2 separate regions of the Homo sapiens genome follow, and region 2 is linked to region 1. Evidence: fine-mapped expression QTL. Tissue or cell type: tibial artery. Region 1 holds a variant in brackets; the other region holds the start of a gene. All regions are shown on one strand. Distances are from middle to middle.

Region 1 (8,099 bases):
GTTAAATCTTCACTTATAAACAGTAAGAAACTGCTTAACCTAATAAGGTCAGGTAGTCATTCAGCAAACACTGACTGCCCACTATGTGCCTAGTATTTAATAAGGGCTACAGAAGTGGGAGTTGTGGTCTCGGTCTCAGTAACGTTAGACTCTGCTTGTGAGAATAAGATAAACTAAAAGTGCTTGCTCATAATGTAAGGCTTCAAGTCTGTAAGACCGAATGAGTAGAGTAGATGCAGCTAAAGGTCAGGAAGGCTTCCTGGAGGAAGTGGCACTAGAGCTTGGGCAACAGAAGAGACTTAGGGAGTTGAGAGGGAGGCCATTCTAGGTTCAGTGTTACTAGAGTGTTAGAAGGGTCTTAGAGAACTTTTTAAATTGGAAAATTGAAATCCCAAGTGGGCAAGCAAGGGCTCCAGCCTAGCACTCCCTTTTCTCTCCCACATAGCATGAGGGAGAGTGGAAAGGTAGGAGTGGGTGGGAAAGTGTTGCACCCAGCCTTTCCACTCCAAACCTCGTATTGCTTTCTTGAGGTTGGTGGTGACCAGGATGTATCATTTTAGGTCATGTCCAAAGTAATGGAGATGTTCCAGCCTAGTGCGGTGGTCTTACAGTGTGGCTCAGACTCCCTATCTGGGGATCGGTTAGGTTGCTTCAATCTAACTATCAAAGGTGAGACCAGGTAGCACAAGGATGGGTGGGCGGGGTCCTGCTTGGTGCTCCTGTAACTCAGCACCCCTTCTCCCACCAAAGGACACGCCAAGTGTGTGGAATTTGTCAAGAGCTTTAACCTGCCTATGCTGATGCTGGGAGGCGGTGGTTACACCATTCGTAACGTTGCCCGGTGCTGGACATATGAGACAGCTGTGGCCCTGGATACGGAGATCCCTAATGGTAATAGCTGCAGGGCCAGGTTCGGCTGGGCTGGGTGGGAGCTGGAGCTCATCTGTCCTTAAGTTTATAACCCCTTCCCCGTTGGTCATATGACCGCTCCTCTTCTGATACTAGTCACTGAGTCTCCTGCCTGTCCTCTTGTGATCAGCAGACCATAACCATCACTTTTTCCCTAGTCCTTTTTAGCTCTCTCCCCTCTCCCTCCTGCTTTTGGTCTGGACAAAGTTCTCATTGGTAATTTACAGCTTTGGAATTTCTACTCTGTAGAGTAACTGGAGTAGCGAGTGAAGGGAGCGCTCATAATGAGCATGGCCTCAAGTGTCCTAAACCAGGGACATGGGCCTTCTCCTAGCGACATATACACCACTGGTACAGACATAGGAGAGTGATGTTAAAAAGATGGAAATCCCATAGGTACCCGTGTCTCACAGTGTCTTGGAGGCATTCTCCTCTGTTTGGATAAATAGGCCCAGAGAAACCTACAAATGCTTTAGGGTGCTTACGTGCAAATGGTTAGGGTGCGGTGGCCAGGTCTCTTGACGGTCTTCTCTCCTGCCCCAATCAGAGCTTCCATACAATGACTACTTTGAATACTTTGGACCAGATTTCAAGCTCCACATCAGTCCTTCCAATATGACTAACCAGAACACGAATGAGTACCTGGAGAAGATCAAGTGAGTATATCCTCCAGCCACCCCTTGGTTGAACATTCCTGACTTTGGTTTGTCCCTGACCAGAGCCCTGCTACTCTCTCCCATTGGCCACAGACAGCGACTGTTTGAGAACCTTAGAATGCTGCCGCACGCACCTGGGGTCCAAATGCAGGCGATTCCTGAGGACGCCATCCCTGAGGAGAGTGGCGATGAGGACGAAGACGACCCTGACAAGCGCATCTCGAGTGAGACCCAGACCTAGAGCCCTATGCCTTCCATTCAATAGGCAGCTCACACTTCCACCACCATTCCTGGCTGCACACTCCCTCCAAGCTCCCCACCTGTAGAGAAATCTGTTTTCGAGTTCCAGTGCCTGTAGGAACAGGTTAGGGAGCCCGAGTTCCTCCCTCTTCTGGTTCCCTTTCCCTTGGTGTCTCTTGGAGGACACGCAGGGAAGCACTGGGCATAGATGCTGAGCTAAATCAGCACCCGCCTGCCCTCTCACCCATGCTTCCCACTCCCTCCCAGTCTGCTCCTCTGACAAACGAATTGCCTGTGAGGAAGAGTTCTCCGATTCTGAAGAGGAGGGAGAGGGGGGCCGCAAGAACTCTTCCAACTTCAAAAAAGCCAAGAGAGTCAAAACAGAGGATGAAAAAGAGAAAGACCCAGAGGAGAAGAAAGGTGGGTTTGGGTTCAGCTGGGACTTGGGTCTCGAGCCTGAGAGGATGAATCTATGTAGGGCAGTGGGAGGAGGGAGTGACTCAGGCCCTGCCAGCTCCTGTGGGGCTCTTCCTCAGTTCCTTGAGCCTTTCAGTGGCTCCCAGAAGTGGCAGAGCCCACAAAACAATGAACCTCTACTGCCTGAGCACGGCTCTCACATACCACCCCAGCCCTTTTCCCAGCACTGCACCCCAGTTTCCCAGGGGGCTGCCTCCGCCCACCAGGTTCTGGCTGTAGCAGGCTGGGAAACCAGTCCAACCTGTTCTCAACAGGGCTCACTGGGAGGACCAGGGATGGGCTTTTCTCTCTTTATGTCCAGTGAGCTGTAGTGTTGGGGAAGGGGTCTCAGGGTAAATGAAGACCTCATGGGTCTTCCCAGAGGTGCTGCCCTTGGCCATCCCTGTACTCTTGTGTTCTAGAAGTCACCGAAGAGGAGAAAACCAAGGAGGAGAAGCCAGAAGCCAAAGGGTGAGGAAGGAGCTGCCTGTGGCCATCTCCCTGGCATTGGAGCACCAGCCCCTTTGTCCCACCACTCTGAGGAAAGGCACAGGGACAGCTGGTCCAGCTTACAAAGGCCTCTTTCAGGGACCAGTCTGTCCAGCTCTGCAGTTCTAGGCAGAGCTAGGAGCCCCAGCCCCCAGTAGTCACCTAGGATCCTGTGGAAGTCACTGTCTGCACTTTTGCCCTGAGGCTCTGGGCTGGGTCATCTCATGCCAGTCTCTGCTCTCTCCACAGGGTCAAGGAGGAGGTCAAGTTGGCCTGAATGGACCTCTCCAGCTCTGGCTTCCTGCTGAGTCCCTCACGTTTCTTCCCCAACCCCTCAGATTTTATATTTTCTATTTCTCTGTGTATTTATATAAAAATTTATTAAATATAAATATCCCCAGGGACAGAAACCAAGGCCCCGAGCTCAGGGCAGCTGTGCTGGGTGAGCTCTTCCAGGAGCCACCTTGCCACCCATTCTTCCCGTTCTTAACTTTGAACCATAAAGGGTGCCAGGTCTGGGTGAAAGGGATACTTTTATGCAACCATAAGACAAACTCCTGAAATGCCAAGTGCCTGCTTAGTAGCTTTGGAAAGGTGCCCTTATTGAACATTCTAGAAGGGGTGGCTGGGTCTTCAAGGATCTCCTGTTTTTTTCAGGCTCCTAAAGTAACATCAGCCATTTTTAGATTGGTTCTGTTTTCGTACCTTCCCACTGGCCTCAAGTGAGCCAAGAAACACTGCCTGCCCTCTGTCTGTCTTCTCCTAATTCTGCAGGTGGAGGTTGCTAGTCTAGTTTCCTTTTTGAGATACTATTTTCATTTTTGTGAGCCTCTT[T/C]GTAATAAAATGGTACATTTCTATATCCTCCTGAGCTTGTTTCCTATGTGTCCCTGGGTTGGTTTCAACTCTACTTCCCTGCCGTTCTGGTGTCCATGAGTATTGGGGCAACCCCCTGAACAAGAAAACCCCATAAACTTACCTGCCTGCCTTAACTCCTCCCTTGAGGTTTGAGGTAAACTACTTTCCACCAATCTTCTCACCCTACCCCCAGAAGACCACTCATTAAAGCACCACTAAAGGGACGACATTTATTCCTTTTCCAAATGTTACAGTAAAACCAGGTGGAAGAGAATGGTTTTAGCAGTTAGAAAAAAAAAAAAAGTACAAATCTGGGGTTTGGCCATTAAAAGTTATTTACAACAGTGGGAGAAAAAAAGACAAGAAGTTGTTTCACATTACAGACCTCCCCCCACCCCAAAGCCTAATACTTGCTTACCAAGTCAAAAAAGAGACACAGTTGATTCACAGGCTGGAGGTTTGAACTTGAGTAAGACATTTATAAAAACCTAGACGGGGCAGTGTCCTCCCCAGCCCAGGTGCCACTAGGCACAGCACAAGAGACTAAAAACAACAGGGGAAGGCTGGACACTCAAGGTTTGGGAGTATAAGCACCCCACTTCTGGCTCAGGGATTTGGGGAGTAGGGTAAACAAAACCTACTTGGAAAAGAATTGGGGAAGAAAACCAACAACTGCCTTATGCAGGGGTGGGGACAGGGAAGGAGGTAGGGCCAGGGACAGGAGCATTTCACATCACTAACCTAACTTGGGAAGCTGTAAGGGACCATCTTCAACTGGCCTTAAGAGGAGAACCAGATGGCTGATGGGAGAATCCACAGGAGGGAGAGGAGGAAAGGGAACGTGGCTGGGAGGAGGCAATAGCCCCTTCCTTTCTGGGCACAGGAAGGCAGCCAGGGCACCAGGTCCAGGCAGTGACCTCACAAGGACAGCACAGTTTTTGCAGCTTAGAGATCACCCACCTGCCCCTACCTAGCTACTCATTCTGCTCAGCGCTGGCTGGTGTAGGGCCACTCTCCGGCCCCGAGGGAGTGGATGGCTCTGTAGCCTGGGGCCCTGCCTCTTCTTCTGAGGCTGCACTAGCCTCTGCCCCCTTGGCCTGGGGTTCCTGGCTCTCAGGGGTGGCTGCGGCCTTCCCTTCCTGAGCAGTGCCCTCGTCGCTGCAGGCACCGATCTCCCCCTGCTCCTGCTCTTCCTCTGTGGGTGAGGAGGCAGAAGAATCACCCCCACCCTCCTTCCGATTTCTCTTGAAGGACAGGCCGCTCAATTTGAAAGGCTTCTTGAAAGAGAATTTCTTCTTCTTCTTGGGGGTCTCCTTGGGGGGGACCTCCCCCTTGGCCTCAGCACCCTGGCTAGGGGGTGCTGGCTCGATGGCATCGCCAGTGGCCCCGGCTGCCTCATCTGTTCCGTTCACAGGGGGCGACTCCCCTTCACCCTTGGGGGATAAGTCTCCATTGCTTTTCACGTGGCCATTCTCCTGCAGGGCAGAGGGAATAGCAATGAGGGCAGGGGCTCCCCCTCCCCCAGCCCGCTTCTGATCCCTTCTAGAGGAAGGGGTCCTCGATTCGATTCTACTGCAACCCGAAAGTCTGGCTTCAGCCTCACCCACACCCAGGATCCCGTCAAACACCTCCCTCTCGCCCCTCACGGGCGCGCGGGGAGCGAGCGCGCAGAGGGCGCGACCGGCAGGAGGCGCTGGGGTCCCGTGGCCCCCACCCCCGTCCCCCGGGGCGCGCTCTCTATTCCGCGCGGAACCGCTCCGGATCTGCTGTGCGGATCCCGGGCAGGCGGGCGAGCCGCTCTAGGCGACATTGGGCGGGAAGCCGCCCCGGGGCGCTGTCTCTCTGCACCTGGACGGCCTATTTTCCCAGCCTCCCGCTTTGTGTAAGTGGCCCCCACCCACCCCAGGCTCTCCCGCATCTCGGCTCCCCCTTAAAAAAAAAAAGACCGTGGGCCACCGAGGTCGGGTCGGCGGGTGGAGTGCGCTCCCCGCCGGGCCCCAGCTCCGCGGCCCCTGGGCGCCCCCTTGGCGTGGCCCAGCAGCGCCTTTGTTCCCCGCGCGGCACTCGGGGCGGCCGGGGGGCAGCGCCGGGGACCGGGGCCGCGAACAAAGAAGGCGGCAGGGCCCGGCCGGCGCCCCCTCCCCGCCCCTCCCCTCGCTTCGCCCGCGGGGGCTGCGGCGCCGAGAACAAAGGGACCGGGCGGGGGAGGGGGCGCCGCGTGTCCCGGGCCGGACAAAGCGCGCGGCCCCGGCCCCGGCCCCGGGCCCTAGAAGGGGCGAGGTGCGAGAGGAGGGGCTGGGGCCGGCCGGGCCAAGCGTACCCACCTGGCCGTTGGCCTTCGCGGGGGAAGCGCCTGCTGCCTCCTCGGCGGTCACGTCGCCCCGGGGAGCCTTGGAGCTCTGGCTGCCCATGATGGGGGTCTGCTGGGGGGCGCTTGGAGCCGCCCCGGGCTCGCGCCGCAGGGGATAGTACGGCGGGGTCGGCCCGGCCGGCGGAGGGGTGGGGCTGGCGCCCGAGGGGGAGGGGTGCCGGGGGAAGCCGAGCTGCACCTCCGCTCCGCGGCCGACCCGCTAGCTGCGCCCGCCGCCGCTCCGCTCCGCGCCAGAATGCCGCCCGCCGCCCGCCGAGCTGCCTATATATAAGCGCCCGGAGCTCGGGGCGGGGCCGGACATTTAAATGCGCGCCCAATCGAGGGGCGGAGGCGGGGTTGGCTCGCAGGCCCCACTTGCGCAGCAGGCGACGCTGGCGGTCGGGTACCCCCCACCCCACCCGAATCCCAGGGGCAGGTAGAGTCCGGTGTGGGCAGGAGCGAGGCCAGTCCTCCCGCGAGCTGGGCGGGGCGGGGCGGGGGGCCTGGAGGAAGGAGACGGGCAGTCATTCCATCCTCTCCGCTCCACCTCTCCGGTGGGCGCCCCCGCAGCCTGGAGCGGCCCCCAACGCCTTGGTCCTGCAGCCGCTGGCAGTCTCCCGCTTGAACCCTTCGAAGGGCTCACACGACCAGGCTCGTCAGATGGCTGGTCCTGAATTATACTCTAGAAATGTGGTCATAGAAGCTGCAGGGCCCCTGCGCTGGGCTCGGCACCCGCTCCGGCCTGGAGAGCGGTCAGAGGTCCCACCCACGTCCCTGCCTGCCTGCCATGGCCAGCCGGGGAGCGGAGGGCTCTGCCTTGCCTCGGGGTCACTCTGGTCGGACTAGTGAGGCCTTTCCCTCATTCCTCCTTTCAGTCCCTTGGTGGCCAGTCATTCTGAGTGGGGACAGACAGATTCGCCTTGAGCCCCTCCTGCCCTCAGCCTGGACCCACTGCAAAGTCCCACGTGGGGGACTTTGTGACCTTGAAGGGCATCTCCATCCCCATTGAAAGGCCAAGGCTCAGAGGCATTGACAACCTGTCTGACTTGGCTCTGGTCCTTCCTCTTTACCTCCACACACAACTCTGCTCCCCTACATCAGGGTGCCCCAGGCCGGCAGAGGAACCCCAGCTGGGGACTCAACAAACCTCAAAACACCCCAGTTTCTGAAGGGGAGGGATAGGATGCTACCAAGGGTCCCTTCAAGGGACAGCCCCTTGAGGACAGCCCTCAAAGCTGCCCAGCCCAGCTTCCCACCCTGCCTGAGAGCAAGGGAGCCCGGAGGTGCTCCGGGCTGGAGACTCCCTAGCTTTGGTCCTCTGCCACCTCTCCTTCTGCTGGCCTGGATAGGCTGGTGGGAACCCCAGAATCCTGGCCGGCCCCGGATGTCTGTGTCCGGCTGCCAGCCCTCAGCCCCCAGGAGGAAAGGGATGGGGGCTGGAAGGAAGCAAAGTGTTGCAAATGCAAGGCTGTGTCCCAGCCAGCTCAGCAAGTCCCTCCCCTCCCTCCTACGGTGAAGCCTCCTGGGAGGCCTGAGGCTGTGAAGTGTGGAGACACCCCAGGGCCTGAGAAATTGGGAACTCCCCAGAGATCTGACCACAGAGGGGCGGGGAGGGCTGAGGTGGCTTCTGCATTCTGCACTCACTCCTGTATCCTCCATCCCCACCCCCACCCTGAGACTACAGAATACCCTCAGCTATCTCAGCTTCACTTGCCCCCCACCCCCGCCCCATTTCACAGACTGGGACCCTGAGGTTCAGGAAGAGAAAGTGACATGCCCAAGGGCACACAGCAGCTACCAGTAGCTGAGGGTGAGAAAAGGCTTGGAGAGGTTTGATAACATGGGCCAAGGGCTGTAAGGAATCCCCTGGCAGAATTTTCTGTTGAGATCTGGGGCTGCCTGGTCAGAGTGGGAGGCAAGGGCTAGCTTTGGGACGGGGAGAGGCACTGTGCCCCCACTGCAGCTCACTGAAAGTACCGTGACTTCTCCACAGCTTGCCACTAAGGGAAGGATGTCATGACCTGCTCTCTGTCTCAGCCACAATAGGGAACCCACAATGCTGCCAGGCGCTGCCCGCACCAGCTGGCTGGGCTCAGAGGGACGGAGGGTGTGTGAGTCTTGCACGGGTTGGGGTCAGAGGTTAA
Region 2 (8,099 bases), 42 kb before region 1:
GAGGATGGCAGAGTGTTTGATGAAAGATAGGGAAATGTTGGCCAGGCACCGTGGCTCACACCTGTAATCCCAGCAGTTTAGGAGGCCGGGGCAGGCGGATCACAAGGTCAGGAGTTCAAGATCAGCCTGGCCAACATAGTGAAACCCCGTCTCTACTAAAAATACAAAAAATTAGCCGGGAGTGGTGGCAGGTGCCTACAATCCCAGCTACTCGGAAGGCTGAATGGCGCGATCTCAGCTCATTGCAACCTCTGCCTCCCAGGTTCAAGCCATTCTTCTGCCTTAGCCTCCCTAGTAGCTGGGATTACAGGCGCCTGCCACCATGCCTAGCTAATTTTTATATTTTTAGTAGACGTGGGGTTTCGCCATGTTGGCCAGGCTGGTCTCAAACTCCTGACCTTGGGTGATCTGCCCGCCTCGGTCTCCCAAACTGCTGGGATTACAGGAGTGAGCCACAGTGCCCGGCCTCTAATTTTTATTTTTAATTTTTTTAATTTTTATTTTTTTAATTTTTATTTTATTTATTTTTTGTAATTTTTAAAATATACAAAAAAAGGGCCGGGTGTGGTGGCTCACGCCTGTAATCCCAGCACTTTTTGGGAGGCTGAGGTGGGTGGATCACGAGGTCAGGAGATCGAGACCATCCTGGCTAACATGGTGAAACCCTGTCTCTACTAAAAATATAAAAAAATTAGCCGGGCCTGGTGGCAGGTGCCTGTAGTCCCAGCTACTCGGGAGGCTGAGACAGGAGAATGGCGTGAACTCGAGAGGTGGAGCTTGCAGTGAGCCAAGATCGCACCACTACACTCCAGCCTGGGCGACAGAGTGAGACTTCATCTCAAAAAAAAAAAAAATTATATATATATATATACATATATATATGCAAACAAAGAGCATCTGAGTCATAATAATGTAAATCTATCACCTGACTGACCTGCTGCCACACCTCATGATCTCATCTGATCCCCACACTCCTTCTCTTTGGGATACTGTGTACAGCCATAGCGTGGGTGAACTTTGTATTCCTATCCTCCCCATTTTTGTTATTTTATTTTATTTCTTATTTATTTGAGACAGAGTCTCACTCTGTCATCCAGACTGTAATGCAGTGGCCTGATCTCGGCTCACTGCAACCTCCACCTCCCGGTTTCAAGCGAATCTCCTGCCTCAGCCTCCTAAGTAGCTGGGACCTACAGGCACACACCACCACGCCCAGCTAATTTTTGCATTTTTAATAGAGACGGGGTTTCACCGTGCTGGGCAGGCTGGTCTCGAACTCCTGACCTCAGGTGATTTGCCCACCTCAGCCTTCCAAATTGTTAGGATTACAGGCATGAGTCACTGTGCCCGGCCTCCTCCCCATTTTATAACAAGGGAAATGGAGGCCCAGAATGGTTAAGTAAACCCACCCAGGGCTAGCTGAGAATTAGCAACAGAGAACTGGGAGTAGAATTTGTTCCCTGGCCCTTTGCTGTTTCTATTATAAGCCACCCAGTCTTAGATTTTCTGTTACCTTATAATTAATGACTCAAATGCAGTTTCTGAGTGAGAAACACAAGTCCCAAACACTCTTTAAAGAGGCATAAAGATGTATCTTGTTGTTTTCTTTTGTTTGAGACAAGGCCTGGCTCTATTGCCCAGGCTGGAGTGTGGTGACATGATCTTGGCTCACTGCAACATCTGTCTCCTGGGCTCAAGCCATCATCCCACCTCAGCCTCCTGAGTAGCTGGAACTACAGGAGCGCGCCCCCACACCTGGGTAATTTTTCTATTTTTTGTAGAGATGGGGTTTTGCCATGTTGCCCAGGCTGGTCTCGAACTCCTGAGCTCAAGTGATCCACCCATCTTGGCCTCCCAAAGTGCTGGGATTACAGGCGTGAGCCACTGTGCCCAGCCTCTTGTTGACTGTAGGACCACAAGTTGGCGGCTAACTTAGAGCAATGTTTGGCACACAGGAAGCACTCATTAAATATTGACATTATTGTAGTTATTTTAATAGCCCAGCATTGCACTTTTAGGTCTTTCAGCTTTCAGTGATGATCAGTTGATAATTGATGATCTGGTGGAGTGGTTCTTAATGGTAGAGTTGGGGGCAATTTTACACTCCCTTACACCCCACTAATCTTCCCCCCAACCCAATGGTAAAGCTATTGCACAGTACTTGGCAATGTCTAGAGACAATTTTGGTTGTCACAGCCTGGGGGGAAGGTGCTACTGGCATCTAGTGGGTAGAGGCTAAGGATGCTGCTTAATTTTTTTTTTTTTTGAGACAAGAGTTTCACTCTAGTTGCCCAGGCACAGAACAGCTTCACAGAAGCTGTTAATGCACAGAATAGCTTCCTACAAAAAAGCATTACCTGGCCCAAAATGTCATTAGCTACCAGGCTGAGAAACCTGCCCTCCTAGGCCGGGCGCTGTGGCTCACGCCCGTAATCTCAGCATATTGGGAGGCCGAGGTGGGCGGATCCTGAGGTCAGGAGTTCGAGACCACCTGGACCAACACGGAGAAACCCAGTCTCTACCAAAAATACAAAATTAGCCGGGCATGGTGGCACATGCTTGTAATCCCAGCTACTCGGGAGGCTGAGGCAGGAGAACCGCTTGAACACAGAGGCAGAGATTGTGGTGAGCCGAGATCACACCATTGCACTCCAGCCTGGGCAACTAGAGCGAAACTCTTGTCTCAAAAAAAAAAAAAAAAAAAAAAACAGGGAAAGAAAAGAAAGGAAACCTGCCCTCCTATCATAGGATAATCCCATTTCCTCCTGTCTAAAGAGACGCCTACTTAGTCATCCTGGGTGACTGCATCAGGGAGGTAGATTTTGGAGTCTGAAAGGCTGGGTTCTGTCACTTTGTTACAGTGCCTCTGGTGCAAAGAAAGCATTTTAAAAACCCTGTACAATTAAAAAATTGAATTTAATTACTTTGTGTAACTTTGAATAATTCACAGAAGTCTGAACTTCTTTATCCTGTCCTGTAAAATGGAGGTAAAAAGCCCTTGGCCGAGAGCTGTTTTGAGGAAAAACTGAAATAACATTGGTAAAGTGTCGCACAGTACTTGGCACACAGCAGCCCCTCGACAAACATTAGCTTTCTTTCCCTTTCTTGTCGGTTTCTTCCTCTCCAAACCCGCGTGTTGCTTTTCTTTTTAATTATTTTTCTGTAGCCCTCCTTTGCGGCCACAAACTCGCTTTCTAACCCAGGTTCAGCCCTTTTATTGGCTGAGTGACCTTGTGCAAGTCACTTTTCCCCTGTAGGCCTCGGTTTATTCTCCGTAAAATCAGAAAGTTGGCCTCCGATCTCCAAGCACGCTTTTCACGACGAAGTGGGACTGTTAAGTTTACAGAGCTGCTTTCCTCCCCCGGGACTGATGGTACGGTCCCCGGGCGGCTCCCCACCCATCTGTCGCAGACCTTGGTACAGGCCCAGGGGGCCCTCGGCGGCCTCTCCGGGCTGCCCTTGCCCCCTGCCGAGTTCCGGGCCCGTGTCTGCGCAAGCTGATTGGCTGGAGCGGTGCCCGGGCTGCGCGGCTATAGGTGAGCCCAGGAGGGGACGGGCGGGGCGGGCCGGAGGCCCGCCCCCTCCCCCCTGGGTCGGACGCTGAGCGGAGCCGCGGGCGGGAGGGCGGACGGACCGACTGACGGTAGGGACGGGAGGCGAGCAAGATGGCGCAGACGCAGGGCACCCGGAGGAAAGTCTGTTACTACTACGACGGTGAGCACCGTCCTCGCGGCGGGGGCGGGGCCAGGCCGGGCCGGACCGGGAACCTGGAGGCTGAGGCTGGAGCGCCGATGGGAGGCTGCGGGAGGCTGAGGCGCTGGGGAGAGGCTCGGAGAGGAGGCTGCGAGGGGGAAGTCGAGGCTGAGGGAGGAGGCTGCGAGGAAGGGAGATCGAGGCTGAGACCAAGAGGGGATCGCGTGGGGGAAGCGTGAGGTAATCTTGATGGGAAGATTCTGAGGAAGTCTGATGTGGAGAGTTTGAGTGGGACTCCTAGAGGGGAGGGTGCGTCGGAGCGGGGAGGCTGAATCTGATGGAGACGGCTGCAAGGATACATTTTCTTGCCGAGAACCCAAAGCTCTTCCCTGCCCCGTCCCTTCCTCATCTTTTCTGGGGGAAGAGTCCTGCACGACTGGTTGCCCGCCTCCCCTCCCCCAGCCTCTGAGCGGGGCCTGCGGTTGCTACTGCGACGTGGGGCGCCAGGGGTTGCAAGGAGAAGGATGCAACCTGTTAAAACAGACTTCTCACTTAATCTCTCAAGCAGGTTACTGTGTTCGAGGAAGTGTTGAGGGGCTGGGGCCGTGGGGTTGATCGGGTCACCCTTCCCAGTGACCGAAGTTCTCTCCGTGTCAGAGCTCAGAGTGTTAGGGGAGCACAGAGAAGAGGCACCGAACTCCACCTGAGGAGTCAGCGAAGGAGGGGACATCTTAGTTAGGACCTGAAGAACAGGAGTTCTTAGCCAGGCACAGGGAAGGCAAAGATAACAGCAAGTTTCAGAGGCAAGAGAGAGGACAGGACCTTTGAAAAACAGGCATTTGGCCGGGCGTGGTGGCTCACGCCTGTAATCCCAGCACTTTGGGAGGCCGAGGCTGGTGGATCACCTGAGGTCAGGAGTTCGAGACCAGCCTGGCCAACATGGTGAAACCCCGTCTCTACTAAAAATACAAAATTAGCCGCGCATGGTGGTGTGCGCCTGTAATCCCAGCTACTCTGGAGCCTAAGGCAGGAGAATCCCTTAGAACCCGGGAGGCAGAGGTTGCAGTGAGCTGAGATCGTGCCACTGCACTCCAGCTTGGACAACAGAGCGAGGCTCTGTCTTAAAAAAAAAAAAAAAAAAAGATGTAAATAGGGACCGGACCATGAAGGGCTGGGCATGCTGTCCCAAGGAAGTTGGACTTTATTGAGGGCACTTGTGAGTGATTCAAGTTTTATGCAGGTTATTGACATCATCAGGTTTATACCTTAGAAATTAAAGTAATGGGGGCCAGGTGCAGTGGCTCACACCTCTCTAATCCCAGTACTTTGGGAGGCTGAGGCAGGCAGATCACTCGGGGCCAGGAGTTCAGGACCAGCCTGGCCAACACGGTGAAACCCCATCTCTACTAAAAATACAAAATTTAGGCTGGGCACGGTGGCTCACGCCTGTAATCCCGGCACTTTGGGAGGCTGAGGCGGGCGGATCATGAGGTCAGGAGTTCAAGACCAGCCTGACCAACATGGTGAAACCCTGTCTCTACTAAAAATACAAAAATTACCCGGGTGTGGTGGTGCGCACCTGTAATCCCAGCTACTCAGGAGGCTGAGGCAGGAGAGTCGCTTGAACCCAGGAGGCAGAGGTTGCAGTGAGCCAAGATTGCACCGCTGCACTCCAGCCTGGGCAACAGGGTGAGACTCCATCTCAAAAAAAAAAAAAAAAATTAGCGAGGTGTGGTGGCACATGCCTGTAGTCCCAGCTACTCAGGAGGCTGAGGTGCGAGAGTTGTTTGAACCTGGGAGGCAGAGGTTGCAGTGGGCTGAGATCTCACCACTGCACTCCGTCCTGGGCAACAGAGCGAGACTTCGTCTCAAAAAAAAAAAAAACAAAAAAATTCAGATTGTAGGGGTAAGGAAGAAGGCATGGATCCCAAGTTCCTGGTGTGGGCAGTATTTTTTATTTTTTGAGATGATGTCTAGCTCTGTCACCCAGGCTGGAGTGCAGTGGCTTGATCTCGGCTCACTGCAACTGCAACCTCCACCTCCCAGATTCAAGGGATTCTCCTGCCTCAGCCTCCTGAGTAGCTGGGATTACAGGCGTGCGCCACCATGCCTGGCTAGTTTTTGTATTTTTATTAGAGATGGGGTTTCACGATGTTGGCCAGGCTGGTCTCAAACTGACCTCCAGTGCTCCATCTGCCTCAGCCTCCCAAAGTGCTGGGATTATAGGCATGAGCCACACTTCCTGGCCTCTGATGTGGGCAATTTGATGGTGAGTGTTTGGAGGTTTGGAGAATGCCATGTCAGTTGATAACTTTTTTTTTTTTTTTTTTTTGAGATGGAGTCTCGCTCTGTCGCCCAGGCTGGAGTGCAGTGGCGCAATCTCGGCTCACTGCTGCAAGCTCCACCTCCCGGGTCCATGCCATTCTCCTGCCTCAGCCTCTCCAGTAGCTGGGACTACAGGCGCCCGCCACCACACTGGGCTGATTTTTTGTATTTTTAGTAGAGACAGGGTTTCACCGTGTTAGCCAGGATGGTCTGGATCTCCTGACCTCATGATCCGCCCGCCTCGGCCTCCCAAAGTGCTGGGATTACAGGTGTGAGCCACCGCACCCGGCCCCAACTTTTTTTTTTTTTTTTTAAACTTCTAGAGATGGGGTCTCAATATGTTGCCTGGGCTTGTCTTGAACTCCTGTGCCTGGCCTCAAGCAATCCTGCCACCTTGGCCTCCCAAAGTGCTGGGATTACAGGCCTAAGCCACTGTTTTTTTTGTTGTTGTTGTTTGTTTGTTTAGAAATAACTATTGATAACTGTTAAGATGTTTAGGGGACATCCAAGTAGAGGCATCCAGTAGGCAGTTTAGAAGATAGAAATTTTTTGGTAGTCATCAGTATCTTAGTCTGCTATAACAGAACACTGTTTATAAAGAACAGAAATTGCTGAATGTGGTGGCTCACGCCTATAATCCCAGTACTTTGGTAGGCTGGGGCGGATGGTTCTCTTGAGCCCAGGAGTTTGAGACCAGCCTGGGCAACTTAGGGAGACTCTGTCTCTACAAAAAGTAAAAAAATTAGCTGGGCATGATGGCATGTGCCTGTAGAGAGGCTGAAGTGGGAGGATCACTTGATCCTGGGAGGTCGACTCTGCAGTGAGCCATGATCGCACCAGTGCACTCCAGCCTGGGGGACAGAGTGAGACCTTGTGTCAAAAAAAAAAAAAGAACATAAATGTATTTCTCATAGTTCTGGAGGCTGAGAAGTCCAAGGCTAGAAAGTCCAAGATCAGGGTGCCAGCATTTGGTGTCTGGTGAGGGTCTGGTCTCTACTTCCAATATGGTGCTTTGAATTCAGTGTTTTCATATGACAGAAGGTGGAAAGGCAAAAAAGGATAAACTCTGTTTTTTTATATGGCCATTAATGTATTAGTGAGGATGGTAGAGCCCTTGAGACCTAAACACCTCCCAAAAGGCTCCACTTCCAAACACTGTTGGCATTGGGGAATATGTTTCCAACACATGAATTTTGGGGGACACATTCAGACCATAACAATCAGCATATGGATAGTTATTTTATTTGTTTGTTTGTTTGTTTGTTTGTTGTAGAGATGTTGTCTTGCCATGTTGTCCAGGCTGGCCTTGAAGTCCTGGGCTCAGCCTCCCAAAGTGTTGGGATTATAGGCATGACCCACCATTCCTGGCTGCTAGCAATTTTAATTGTAGTAAATTTAGTCATAAAGGATGCAGTCACCCAATAAGTTATATAGAATTCCAGGGTGGAATTCTAAGGAAGTGGATTGAGGAAAAGTTTAGTGCCCCTCATGCTGTGTACTCCCCCGTGATAGTATTTGTCACTGTGTAGAGGAATTGCCCATTTACTTGGTCATATTTCTTGTAGAGAGGAGGCTCTTTAGGGAAAGGGGCCGTGCCTTGTCTACCTCTGTATCCCCAGCACCAAAAACAATGCCTAGCTCATGGTAGGTTCTCAATAAATATTTGTTGATTAAATGTATAATGATAGAGAGTGAGGGGCCGGAGAGGTAGGTGAACCAGAAAGTACTGGGTTGCAGAAGCTAAAGAAGGGAGGGATTGGGCAAGTGTTGGCGGCAACTGGGGCAGAAGCTAGATTGTGGTAGATTGCAGTACATGGATGGCTAACTGAAGAGGAGACATCAGGTTGAACCCTTTTTTTGGAGACAGGGCCTCACTCTGTCACTCAGGCTGGAGTGCAGTGGCATGATCCTGGCTCACTACCACCTCTGCCTCCCAGGCTCAAGCAGTCCTCCCACCTCAGCCTTCCAAGTAGCTGGAACCACAGGTGTGCACCCTTTTTGTATTTTTTGTTTAGAAGACAAACGGTTGTCTTTTGTTTAGAGACAGGATTTCGCCATGTTGCCCAGGCTGGTCTCAAACT

The links. PIP is the estimated chance that this variant, and not a neighbour inherited with it, causes the effect.
Region 2: HDAC1 starts here. The variant in region 1 is fine-mapped to the expression of HDAC1 in tibial artery (GTEx, PIP 0.99). The same link has a PIP of 0.9 or more in testis and whole blood.

The regions. Positions count from the first base shown.
Region 1 is chr1:32,330,018-32,338,116 of GRCh38, forward strand. It overlaps HDAC1 (histone deacetylase 1), which reads left to right. Exons shown (of 14, transcript NM_004964.3): 8 at 561-669; 9 at 751-891; 10 at 1,457-1,565; 11 at 1,659-1,789; 12 at 2,073-2,225; 13 at 2,684-2,732; 14 at 3,000-3,609. The coding sequence ends at 3,027. It overlaps MARCKSL1 (MARCKS like 1), which reads right to left and starts at 6,216. Exons shown (of 2, transcript NM_023009.7): 1 at 5,930-6,216; 2 at 3,822-5,080. The coding sequence starts at 6,016. The coding sequence ends at 4,580. It overlaps LOC124903949 (a long non-coding RNA gene), which reads left to right and starts at 5,360. Exons shown (of 2, transcript XR_007065661.1): 1 at 5,360-5,487. RefSeq lists silencers at 67-267, 5,038-5,477, 5,618-5,697, 5,828-5,977, 5,998-6,527 and 1 more and enhancers at 5,869-6,438, 6,708-6,797. The variant T/C (reference allele first, on the strand shown) is at 3,585.
Region 2 is chr1:32,288,505-32,296,603 of GRCh38, forward strand. It overlaps HDAC1 (histone deacetylase 1), which reads left to right and starts at 3,579. Exons shown (of 14, transcript NM_004964.3): 1 at 3,579-3,714. The coding sequence starts at 3,666. RefSeq lists a silencer at 3,293-3,702 and enhancers at 4,313-4,372, 4,444-5,018.